Linked DNA regions of Homo sapiens. The protein of the gene in region 1 interacts with the protein of each later gene in a biochemical or structural test. Each region holds a gene or a part of one and is shown in the gene's direction. Other genes may lie near its edges. The genes, in order: NTRK3, FRS2 and PTPN1.

Evidence for each region.
Region 2: the proteins of NTRK3 (region 1) and FRS2 form a complex in vitro, tested with the Homo sapiens proteins (one study listed by BioGRID).
Region 3: the proteins of NTRK3 (region 1) and PTPN1 form a complex in vitro, tested with the Homo sapiens proteins (one study listed by BioGRID and IntAct).

Annotation. Positions count from the first base shown.
Region 1 is NC_000015.10:88,250,083-88,253,830, reverse strand, and holds part of NTRK3 (NT-3 growth factor receptor isoform a precursor), read left to right. Parts: intron 1-352; exon of another isoform or gene 353-1,101; intron 1,102-1,216; exon of another isoform or gene 1,217-1,308; intron 1,309-3,748. UniProt on the Homo sapiens protein: Receptor tyrosine kinase involved in nervous system and probably heart development.
Region 2 is NC_000012.12:69,473,254-69,477,001, forward strand, and holds part of FRS2 (fibroblast growth factor receptor substrate 2), read left to right. Parts: exon of another isoform or gene 1-955; intron 956-3,748. UniProt on the Homo sapiens protein: Adapter protein that links activated FGR and NGF receptors to downstream signaling pathways.
Region 3 is NC_000020.11:50,576,353-50,580,100, forward strand, and holds part of PTPN1 (tyrosine-protein phosphatase non-receptor type 1), read left to right. Parts: intron 1-2,067; coding exon 2,068-2,277; intron 2,278-2,815; coding exon 2,816-2,977; intron 2,978-3,350; coding exon 3,351-3,574; intron 3,575-3,748. UniProt on the Homo sapiens protein: Tyrosine-protein phosphatase which acts as a regulator of endoplasmic reticulum unfolded protein response. Mediates dephosphorylation of EIF2AK3/PERK; inactivating the protein kinase activity of EIF2AK3/PERK.

The DNA of each region.
Region 1 (3,748 bases):
TACTGGAGGGCCTCAGGAGGGCGTCTGGGAGGATAGTGAGCAGGGAGTGGATCTGGAGCCCCTCTGTGTGTGTCCCCATTCTTGTTTCAGGACTTGGATTCTGAGAGGCCATCAGGACTCCTTTCTCTAAATCCACCCAACACCAAAGAACAAGGGAAATGGATTCCCACAGGAGCTGTGCCAGTGGCAGGTGGGGGAGGGTCAGAGGTCATGGGTCAAATGACCTCTCCTTGCCCCATCTTTTCCCCAGTGCCCTGTTATATCTATGGCTGGTATTGACTGAGCTCGAGAAGAGCCCAGATTTCCACTCCAGAGCCAGGGGGCTGGAGAGAGGGCGGAGAGTCACGCTTACCCCGGAAAGTCAGCATCCCCATCCCTGTTTGACTTCTGAGGAAATGGAGGCTTGGGGTGGTAAGGTCACTTGCCCCAGACACACAATCCCAACAGGAACCCCCACTGTGTGGGGCTGCATATGGAGCAGGCTGGAAGAGGGATGTGCGGGCAGAGAGAAGCACCCGCAGCTGGGGTCAGTTCTTGTTTTAGTATGACTTGGGAAGAGGGCTTCAGTTGAAGCCCGTGCCTTGCTGGAGAGTTGTTCTTCAGATTTCTGATGTTATCAAGGAAATGGGACCAAGAGGTCCCCTAGCTCCCTACTGGCCTGAAGCTCTTGATGCTGGTGGCTGCCCCAGGGTATAGCTTGGGCACACTCTGGGTAGAAGATGCTGAGGCCTCCACAGTTTCACCCTCTTGTTCTTCGGGCTGTAATGTTTCGAGATCCTTCCTTCAAGTGCTGAACTGATTGTAACTGAGTTTCCAGAGGGACAAGAGGTTTCCCTGTGGTTCTGCTTCTCAGGGATGGTGTGTGGAGTGATTCCTGTGTGGCCATCCAAGGAAGCTGGCTGGGAACTGCCTCTGATGGGGGAGGCCATCTCCCCATTCAGCTGCCCTGTTTGTATCTGGAGGAAATCAGTTGCAAGGCATCAGAGCATAAGTGTGGGTCTCACCTCCACCCCTCACCAGAGCCACGCTCCTCCAAAGGGCCCTCCCTTTTGGCCCCTTTCTGCCCAGGAGGCCAATCCCTTTGCCTTTGCAGCTGTTGATACACAGGAACCTCATGGAGCCTGGAAGGGTCCATGCGCAGCCACACCCAACCAGGCTGTGACGTCACAAAGGCAGGAGGGTGGTGGCCATGGTGGACTGTCTGGGCCGCTTTGCTAGGCCAGGCCTACCTGGGGCTGGGTTGGAGTGGTATGGTCTTTAGCTGTTAGAAAGAAGATGAAGTGGGAGAGGATGGCATGGCTGGACCAGGTATGCTTGGGGCTGGCTACCTCGGCTTGCAAAGACCACGGGCTCTTAGCTGGGACTCTGAGTCGCCAGCTGGGTCTCACTCTGAGCCGCCACAGGGTCCCTGGCATTTGGCAGCTCTCTGGTCCCTTCATTTCCATGGCCCTCCCTGAAGGCCCTCTTCTGGCTGGCTGAAGGATCATTCGGGGCTTTGGCCGTCATGTTGGCTCCTGAGTCTCATTCTTTCTAAGGATCAAGGGGAGACCCAGCCTTGACAATGACCCAGCAGGGTATGAGCCAGGCCCCAAAGGCATCATGGGGCTCACTCTCGGTAGGCACAGTTTGGTGCTCAGAACCCCAGGATTAGGACTAGGTCTGAGAGAGGTGGGCAGAAATGTGAGGGGCTGTTGACATGAGATTTGGAAGCAGGAGTAGTTACAGCCCCAGAGAAAGGTACTTCCAGGATCAAACCTGGAGACCTTGGTCTCCTGAGGCCCTGGGGTTTTCCACCAAGGAAAGGCTATTGGTGGCTCCAGAGCCAAGACCCCCTGCCCCAGGAAGCCCAGCAGGTCAAGCTTCTGTCATACACCCTGGGGCCAAGGGCATCTGCTCTGCACCTCCATGGGACCTGAGGCCATGACAGCTTTGGGCAAAAACCAGCCCAACCTGGCCACTGCTTTGAAAGTCCTCATCTACTGGCCCCAGGAAGGCTAAGCCTGCAACCTGGAAGGTTCCTTAGGGTCCTAGAAGGCTCCTACTACCCTCCTGCCTGGCTGAACAGGAGGTGCTGCTGTGAGAAAGGGAGGGCCTGTCCTTGCCTTGCCAGTCCCTGCCAGCTGCTGCTTCTGTCCAACTCTGTAGAAGGACCAGGGCCCCAACTCAGCTGGCTCTTGGGTGGGTGTGGGTAGCCTGAGGCCCTCCTTTGGTATGGCCCTTGCCAATATCACGGCATTTCCACTGTGGCCTGGGTCCCCATCCCATGTGCTCCCATGGGTGGCTTGCACAGAAGTCATAGGCATGGTCTCCAGCCTCCCCTCGGGGCCTCCAGTTGGCTGGTGGCAGAGAAAGGGATGGATCATGTGAATCCCACCTTGGCTCTGCCCCTAACTCCCTGTGAGCTCCATCAGGGCACTCTAGACTTTCAGAGCCTGTAAATTCAACTATGAATTGAGGCCGCAGGGCAGAGTGTTTCTTCCAACTTGGACATATGTCATCTCAGGGCCCAGAGAACTTCCCCCAGGAGGCTCGGCCACGCCACTTTTAAGGGCATCTCCTGGGGATGGCAGTGATCCTTGTGATGGTGCCAGGAGGAGGTGCACTCCCTCACTGACCTTGGGACAGTGGTTATTCTCCTCTTCCTTCCCTTCCCACCTCTAGCAAACTCAGGCCACCCAGAATTTGACACCATTTGTGACACATGACACTATTTAGAGTCAACTGCCCAGACCAAATGGCATATTTAACAAGAATGTGCTGGGGCCTGCAGCCTCTCATTAGGGCCTGGACACCCAGCTTCGTGACTCCCCATCTGCACCCTGGGCTCAGGGCCAGGAAAAGATGTTCTTTTGCAAAGCTTTCAGCCCATTGCTGGAGCACAGCTCTCCACTGGGTGTGAGAAGAAAACACTGGAACTTCTATTGCAAATTATTTTTGCCTAGAAAAGAGGATATTTCATATTTAATGTATAGATAATAGATATATAAACATATAAAGTAATAAATATGAGTGTTTGGGGTTTATAAAATAAACTTTTTGATTGCTAAATCATGCATGATCAATACAGCTTGGTACCCACTGCTCTTGTGATTGGGAGGGTTGGCACTTGAGAAGGAGACAGGGTGGTGACAGAAGAGGTGGTCCTGAAGCCCCTGGCTCTCTCTTGGTGCTGGGCCAAGGAACGGTTGATTAATAGGGGGGTATGGTTAATGTGAGGAGGGAATAAGCTGGGTGGGGTGGAGGATCTCAGTTCCGGATCAGAGTTCCCAAGGCCCAAAAGCCCCCTCGCAGGGGCCAGGCCAGCTCTTATGAAACGATGGTCTAGTGCCTACTGGGATCCTACCTTCTTATCCTTGTGTAGCAAATTCTTCATCTCCACGAATGCCCCCATCAGTCATATCATTATTTTTAGTTTACAATTGTTGAGTTTATTTTTGTGACAGTTGCTTGGCATATAAAAGCAGAGCTTAACAGTCCCATTTTACAGATCAAGAAAACAAAATAAAGAACAAATCTAGTGTCCCAGGTGGTCATGTTGTCATAGCTCACAAATGGAAAAGTCCAGAGGCTCTCAGGAGTCTGTGGTTCTTCTGGGGCTTCTCTTACCAGCTTGTGGGTCCCCTTGGCTCTGTTCTTTCTTGGGCGTGGCCCTTTCAGCCAGACATTAGGACTACGCCTGAGAGAGGAAGACAGAAATGTGAGGGGCTATTGACATGAGATTTGGAAGCGGGAATACTTACGGCCCCAG
Region 2 (3,748 bases), on another chromosome or scaffold:
CATGTAACAGCCCCAATTTGAATCCAAATCTGTCTGGTGCCAAAGCCTGTGTGTTTCTACTGCATCATGTTGCTCCCCAATAAACTGGTAACCTGAGTTTAATGTTACAGAGAATAAGACTTTTCTAAGACAAAGATTTATGGATTGGGAGTAGGTGGGTGAAGAAGGCCTTTCAAATAAAGAGAATGATGTGAGCAGAAGTGTGGAGGTGGGAAAGTTCATTGTGTACTTGGAGAAAAGTTAGTGGACCAGATTACCTGGAATATACTGTTCATTTTTGGGAATTAGAGATGAGGTTTGAATTTTAAGTGGGGGCAGGATTGTGGAGCATGTTTAAGTGCTGCTTTTAGAAGTTTGACATTTGGGGAAAAAAAGTTCGACGTTTGGGAGGTAATGAGAAGTTACCAAGGTCTAATAGAGTAGTGTGCAGAATGATTTGATGTGGAAAGCTGACTTTCAATGTAGTATAAATACTGGGCAAGGGCAGTGGTAATGGAATTAGAGTGAAGGCTCTGCAGGACCTCAATGTCGTAGGTGGGTGGCGAGGAGGAGGGGTTTTTGGAGCAGGTTTGGAGGAGATGGAAGGTGAAGATTACACTTTTGTTTTTGAGACAGAGTCTAGCTTTGTTGCCAGGCTGGAGTGCGGTGGCGTGATCTTGGCTCACTGCAACCTCCGCCTCCTGGGTTCAAGTGATTGTCCTGCTTCATCTTCCCGAATAGCTGGGACTACAGGTGCTCACCACCACGCCCAGCTAACTTTTGTATTTTTAGTAGAGACGGGGTTTCACCATGTTGACCAGGATGGTCTCGATCTCTTGACCTCGTGATCCGCCTGCCTCAGCCTCCCAAAGTGCTGGGATTACAGGTGTGAGCCACTGCGCCCAGCTGAAGATTACACTTTTTAAGTGTCGGAGATGTTGACGGTGGTACTCTTACTAGAAATACGGGCAAGGAGGTACGTAATGAGATCAGTTTTGGATTTGTTGACTTTTTTGTATACTTGCCAAACGCTGGAAATGTCCAAAGGCTTTTGGAAATGTGGATTTGTGGTTAAGGGGAGAGGTCAGGACTAGGCATATATTAAACATGGGTTTAGTGAATAATACAAATAGGTGTACTGGTTGAATCTGTGTAAGAAGATGAAAGTGCCAAGGGAGAATGTAGAGGGGAAAGAAAAAAAAAACTTCTGTTTTAAATGGCATCTGTTTAAAACAGAAGGAAATATGCTAAGTGATTTATTTTATGCAGTGGGTAAAGAATTTGATAGTATGTCCACTGCTTCTTCACACTGTAGGTTCACACGGAGTAGAAAGAATCTGATCATTAAAAATCCAATTGGGAAATACAGTTTTCTTGCCCTGGGTAGCAAGAATACTATGCTATCTTTACCCTGTTTCAGGGAGGACAAACTACTTCAGACTCATTTCATCCAGAGTGTCAGATTTGGTTACTTAAAAGCTATGTTAGCTTGTTTCTTTTGGACATTTGTTTGGCAAGTGGTATGTGAGGAGTTGGAAGCAAATCTCTGATACAGTATTTCACTTATTTATGTGTATGACATCGATTTTGGTTTCAAAATCAAGAACCTCTGAATATTCAAAGATAATATTTACATCTCATTAAGGCTGTTAATATTGCTTTTTATAGAAAATGGCATTTGATTACATATTTTTCTTCCAACTCTATTTTATAAGTTCTTTTGATTAACATGATTAGTTTTGGCTTATAATGTTTGGATTATATTAGAGGGATAGAATAAGATACTTTTATCCATTATATGATAACACATATGAAAGTTACATATTTTATTTTGGAAACTGTTTAAGAACTGTAAATTTATAGAATTTTGTGTGGTTTTCTGTTTAGGTATTTAAATAGGGGGAACTTGAGTATTAATGTGTAAAAGATTATAATAGTTTGCAGAATGAGGCTTAGAGTTGTAACTTTTTGAGGGCAAGTTTATTATTTTTAGACTGAGTTACCATGGAAGTGTTTATTTCCTTCTTGAGAATTAATACATTCCTTTTGTTTTTCAGGAATATGTTTTCCACTATATCACAGGCACTTGGGAATGTCGAAAGAGTCCTGTGTCAGTGTTGTTGGAGGCAGGGGGTTTTGTGTGTGCTTTGTCTGGGCTGTTTGGCTTAGTTTCAGTAAGCCTGGTATTAATGAGGCAAAGGTCAGGAGTTCCATTTAGCTTCAGTCTAAATGATGGCCAGGGAGTACACCCCTCACTCCCTCCAGCTGTCTTGGAAATTCCTTGGTTGTCATTGGTCACAAAGGTGACTAGATGAGGGTGGATTGTTATACCACTGGAAGAATATTAGAGGAAACTTAGGATAATGGCTGGGACCTCTGACTCTAGAATTAGATAGACCCGTGTCAAAATCCTTGGTATTCAACCTTGGGAGAGTCCCTAAACTTCTCTAAGCTTACATTTCCTCATTATTGAATAGGTTAATATTTGGTTTGGGCATTACGTATCATCACTTTCCTTTTCTCAGTGGGAGCTAGCCACTTAAGCTTGTGGCTCCCGAAGTGCTGGACTGTGGAGTAGTGTCAGTTCATGACAGAGTTTTCCTTTGAGTGAAAGGAGAATGTAGTTGGCTTCTTTAAAGCTAAATCTATTGATATGTTTTTCTAAAATTATCTTTTGCCATTTTCGATGGGCGCTTAGTTCTTTTATGAAATAGTGGTGATGGGTAATCGGTAGTTTTTGTTTTTGTTTTTTAAATGTCCTTGGCAGAATAAAAGTTGGCAGCCCTATGCTGGTCACCCTCTCCTTCCTCGTGCCCCTTTTTAAAGATTATGGTTCTGTGAAATCCGAAAATCTTGGCTTAAACAGAATCTGAGGGATTGGAGGAGACTATTCATCCACATATTTATGCATATTAAAGAAGGTTTGGGGTACATTCTGCCCTTGTGTTAGCCTACAGAGGACGTATTGTGATTCTCGCCACCATTGAATTTAATTTTGTCAAGATTCACAGTCAATACTTATAACATATTTCAAGGAGCAGTTCAGACTGTTTTCAGTTGAGTTCACACAAGTAGCTCTAAATTACTTGTTTAAGACTGTGTTTCTCAACCAGAGCCTCTGGAGAAAACTGTTGAACTGTGGGCGCTGCCTGGGGGTGCTGCTTTAAGTTATTACTCTGTTGATTAGCCAACAAGATAAATAACTCGCCTTTGACATAGTGAAGCAGCAGAAATTGGCTTTCCATTTCACTTCTTCTGCAGGAAAGATAGAGCAAGAAAAGCCTTTTTATTAATACAGCAAGTAAACCTTGTACAAATATCAGTATTCAAAATGCTTTCTAGAGAAAGAATAGTGCAGCACTGTGCGTAATGGGTTATGTAAGTGGAGTCACAGAAGTCCTCCTGGGGACACAAACCAATTATGAACATAAGTGCTTATTGAAATTGCATCAGTTGTCTAGATGAGGAGCTTATTGACTCCCTGGTTCACTTGGGTGGGCAGGCGGCTGTGGGGGAGGGACGGGGGGGGGTGTGGGGGTGGGGAACTTAAGGTGCAAACCTAGCCTAGGTGACTGTTAAATTAAGGCTTAACATTTGTTTCTTTTGAGTGTTTTTGGTTGCGTAATTTTAAAAGTTGGGAATGCTATAGAAATATTTAAATTCTATTAGAATGTCCAAGGCAAAATGTTCAGGTTAAGTAGAAATAGCTTGGACCCTCTGTTAATTTTAAAGAAAACTGTGGGTTTGCTGCTTTAGATATTAAAATGAT
Region 3 (3,748 bases), on another chromosome or scaffold:
CAGCTCAGAGGTTTTGATGTTAGGATCTGTTTGCTCCAACAGACTTTGTTTTTAAAAGGCTTTTCTCAGCCATAGCTGTCTGTTCTAGCACAAGGCTGGAATGAGTTCCTTGTGAAAGAGGTGAGCAGGTGTGAGGGAGGGTGTCAGTGGGCGGTAACCCACACCTTCAAGGATTAAAGGAAAACTTGCATTTGGCATGCTTGCTTCTTATTCAATTTTAAAATACATTTTAACGGCCGGGCACGGTGGCTAACACCTGTAATCCCAGCACTTTGAGGGGCTGAGGTGGGTGGTTCACGAGGCCAGGGGTTCAAGACCAGCCTGGCCAAGATGGTGAAACCCCATCTCTACTAAAAATACAAAAAAAAAAAAAATTAGCCGGGCGTGGTGGCGGGCACCTGTAATCCCAGCTACTCGGGAGGCTGAGGCAGAGAATTGCTTGAACCCAGGAGGCGGAGGTTGCATTGAGCCGAGATCATGCCACTGCATTCCAGCCTGGGCGGCAGAGCAAGACTCTGTCTCAAAATAATAATAATAATTTTTTAAAAATACATTTTAAGTCCTTTTCTTCCCCACCTGCCTCCACCCACCAAATAGAAGAGGTATTTCTTCTTCTTTAATGTCATTAAGGTTATATGGATACCATTTTCTAGAGAGGAAAGAATGATGGAATTGCCTAGTGTGAGTCTAGCAATTATCCTAACATACACAAATTTCTCCTTGTTCTGTGCCAAGATACTGTATTTAATATTTAATGAACATTAAATATTATTTACTAGTGTATTTAATGGCTGAGGCAGGGTTAAATATGTATTATTTTCATCCCAGCAGAGTTGGGGGAGGTCCTAGTAACTATGCCATGAGCTCTGTGAGGGTGAGGTGGTGTCTTTGCCCCCGCCTCCCTGGCACAGTGACTGGCACATGATTGGCATAGTGTGGACATTCGTCAAGTGAAGGAAGGCATCATGAGCAGATCTCTGGCCTGAATCCTTCTGCCATCAGCTGCTCGCCAGGTGGCCCTGGCACTGGGCCACAGGGAAACTCTCCAGGCTGGTATGGTTCCTGTCTGTGGCTGTCTTCCCGGGCCCATGTTAGGAGACTTTCACTTCCAGAGCCCTTTCCCTCTCAGGGCCTTGCTTACCAAGTGACTGGTTCCCATTTACTAGGAGCTCTTAGGTCATTGAAGATGTTGCGTACTCCCCCCAGTGAGGGCTGCCTTTTGATCACAGCCGCCAGAAGCCTCAAGGAAGGAGCAGAGCTGGAAACAGACGCCAGGCCATTGCTTCTGTTCCTCTGGGGCAGACCCAGCCACGGAAGAGACATTCTGGGACAAGGGCTGGGGTCCACCTTTCAAACGTGTCTGCAGCAGGCTCTCAGCATGGACTCTCTGCCTCCAAACATCCACCTCCTCATCGGAAAATGGATGGGAGTGCCTGCCTGGAGCAGCTGGTGGGAGAGCGCAGCGCCAGCACGTAGGACACACTCGGTTCATGGGCTGATGCCGTTCGCATTGACTGCCTCTTCAGCTGGGTGTTGAGCCACACCTTGGAGTCACCAGTCTTTGGAGACCAAGTCTGCTACTTTTTTCTCTAAAGTGACAATCCTCTGAAACCTCCAGATCATCTTGAAGCCCCCGTCTGAAAGTTGCCCAGAGCCAGTGCCTCACCTGCTGTTCCTTGTTCACTTTTTCACGGGAGGCCTTGCAGGGCTTTATGACAAGATTTTATGGGTGGCTGCCCAGCATCATTGTGACTCGTGAGACAGAGAGAAACCAGTTGTAACCATGTAGACAGTGGAAGTGATAGGGAGAAAAGAGGTGAGGGGACTCTTCAATCCGAAGGGAAATGAAGTCTAAGCAGGCGCACCCTGCAGGTTCAGTGTCAAGCCCAGGGCCTGGCCCCAGGGTGTGGTATTTGTTGACTGGGTGTGTGGACCCTGGGAGAAAGTCTGAGAATGAATGTTCCTCTTAGAGGTAGAGAGTGGAAGGTGACTCTGTGTGTACTTGGAATTAGTGATTTCTGTACAGATGATTCTTTTAGAATCATCATGAGTATTTTTCTCTTTCAGACCCAAGAAACTCGAGAGATCTTACATTTCCACTATACCACATGGCCTGACTTTGGAGTCCCTGAATCACCAGCCTCATTCTTGAACTTTCTTTTCAAAGTCCGAGAGTCAGGGTCACTCAGCCCGGAGCACGGGCCCGTTGTGGTGCACTGCAGTGCAGGCATCGGCAGGTCTGGAACCTTCTGTCTGGCTGATACCTGCCTCTTGCTGGTAAGGAGGCCCTCGCGGGTGCCCTGGGGAGCTCCTCTACCTGCTCTGCTGTGATGTTTTTTCCTAAGTAGAAACTGAAGCGCTCCTCTTCCAAAATACAGAGACTCACTGTGTTAGTCTGTTTTTGCGTTACTAATAAAGGCGTACCTGAGACTCGGTAATTTGTAAAGAAAAGAGGTTTAACTGGCTCCCGGTTCTGCAGGCTGTACAAGCATGGCACCAGCATCTGCTCGGCTCCTGGGGAGGCCTCAGGGAGCTTCCAGTCATGGTGGAAGGTGAAGGGGAGCAGGAGCAAGAGATGGGGGAGGTCCCAGACTCTTAACCAGCTCTCTTGTGAATGCATTGCCTCAGGGAGGGCACCAAGCCTTTCATGAGGGACCTGTCCCCCTGACCCAGACACCTCCCACCCAGCCCCACCTCCAACACTAGGGATCACATTTCAGCATGAGATTGGGAGGGGACAGACATCTAACGGTGTTATTAACGTTGCCCTTGAGAATTGGACCTGGCTGACTTATATCTCCTCTCTGGCTTTCAGATGGACAAGAGGAAAGACCCTTCTTCCGTTGATATCAAGAAAGTGCTGTTAGAAATGAGGAAGTTTCGGATGGGGCTGATCCAGACAGCCGACCAGCTGCGCTTCTCCTACCTGGCTGTGATCGAAGGTGCCAAATTCATCATGGGGGACTCTTCCGTGCAGGTCAGCATTGCCTTTGTTTGAATCCAGGTGTGACCATTTTAACTTTTTTGTCTTTGAAGGAGGCTGTCAGTTGTAAAAGTTCAAACACCGTCTGGTGTCAGGGGAAATAGCTACCCTTCATGTTTAAAATAGCTAGAAAGTTGTCAAAATGTTCACCATGTTGCACTTTGTGCCTTTGAAGTGCTCACATAGAGAGCATTGATAGGAAGACGAGACTTTATTTTCAAAAGATTTCATCTTCCAAGTACATGGCTGCAGCCCTGAGAGGCCGAGAGCCCCTCGCCAAGCCGTCACCTCTGCTCATGCAAAGGGATTTCCTGACAAACCAGCCGAAGTGAACACTAATAGGACTTCCTCTTGCTGCTCTTTCAAGGATCAGTGGAAGGAGCTTTCCCACGAGGACCTGGAGCCCCCACCCGAGCATATCCCCCCACCTCCCCGGCCACCCAAACGAATCCTGGAGCCACACAATGGGAAATGCAGGGAGTTCTTCCCAAATCACCAGTGGGTGAAGGAAGAGACCCAGGAGGATAAAGACTGCCCCATCAAGGAAGAAAAAGGAAGCCCCTTAAATGCCGCACCCTACGGCATCGAAAGGTAATATGATTGGGTCCCAGCTTGTTGGGGTGAGGGGAAATGACTTTCTGTTCTAGAAACACACGCTGGTACTGAAACCCTGTGGATGCAGCCTCCTGTTGGCAAGCAGCGCTTCCGCATCCTTGGGGAACAGGGCGCGTGGACCACAGCCACTCCACTCCTGGCTGCTGGAGG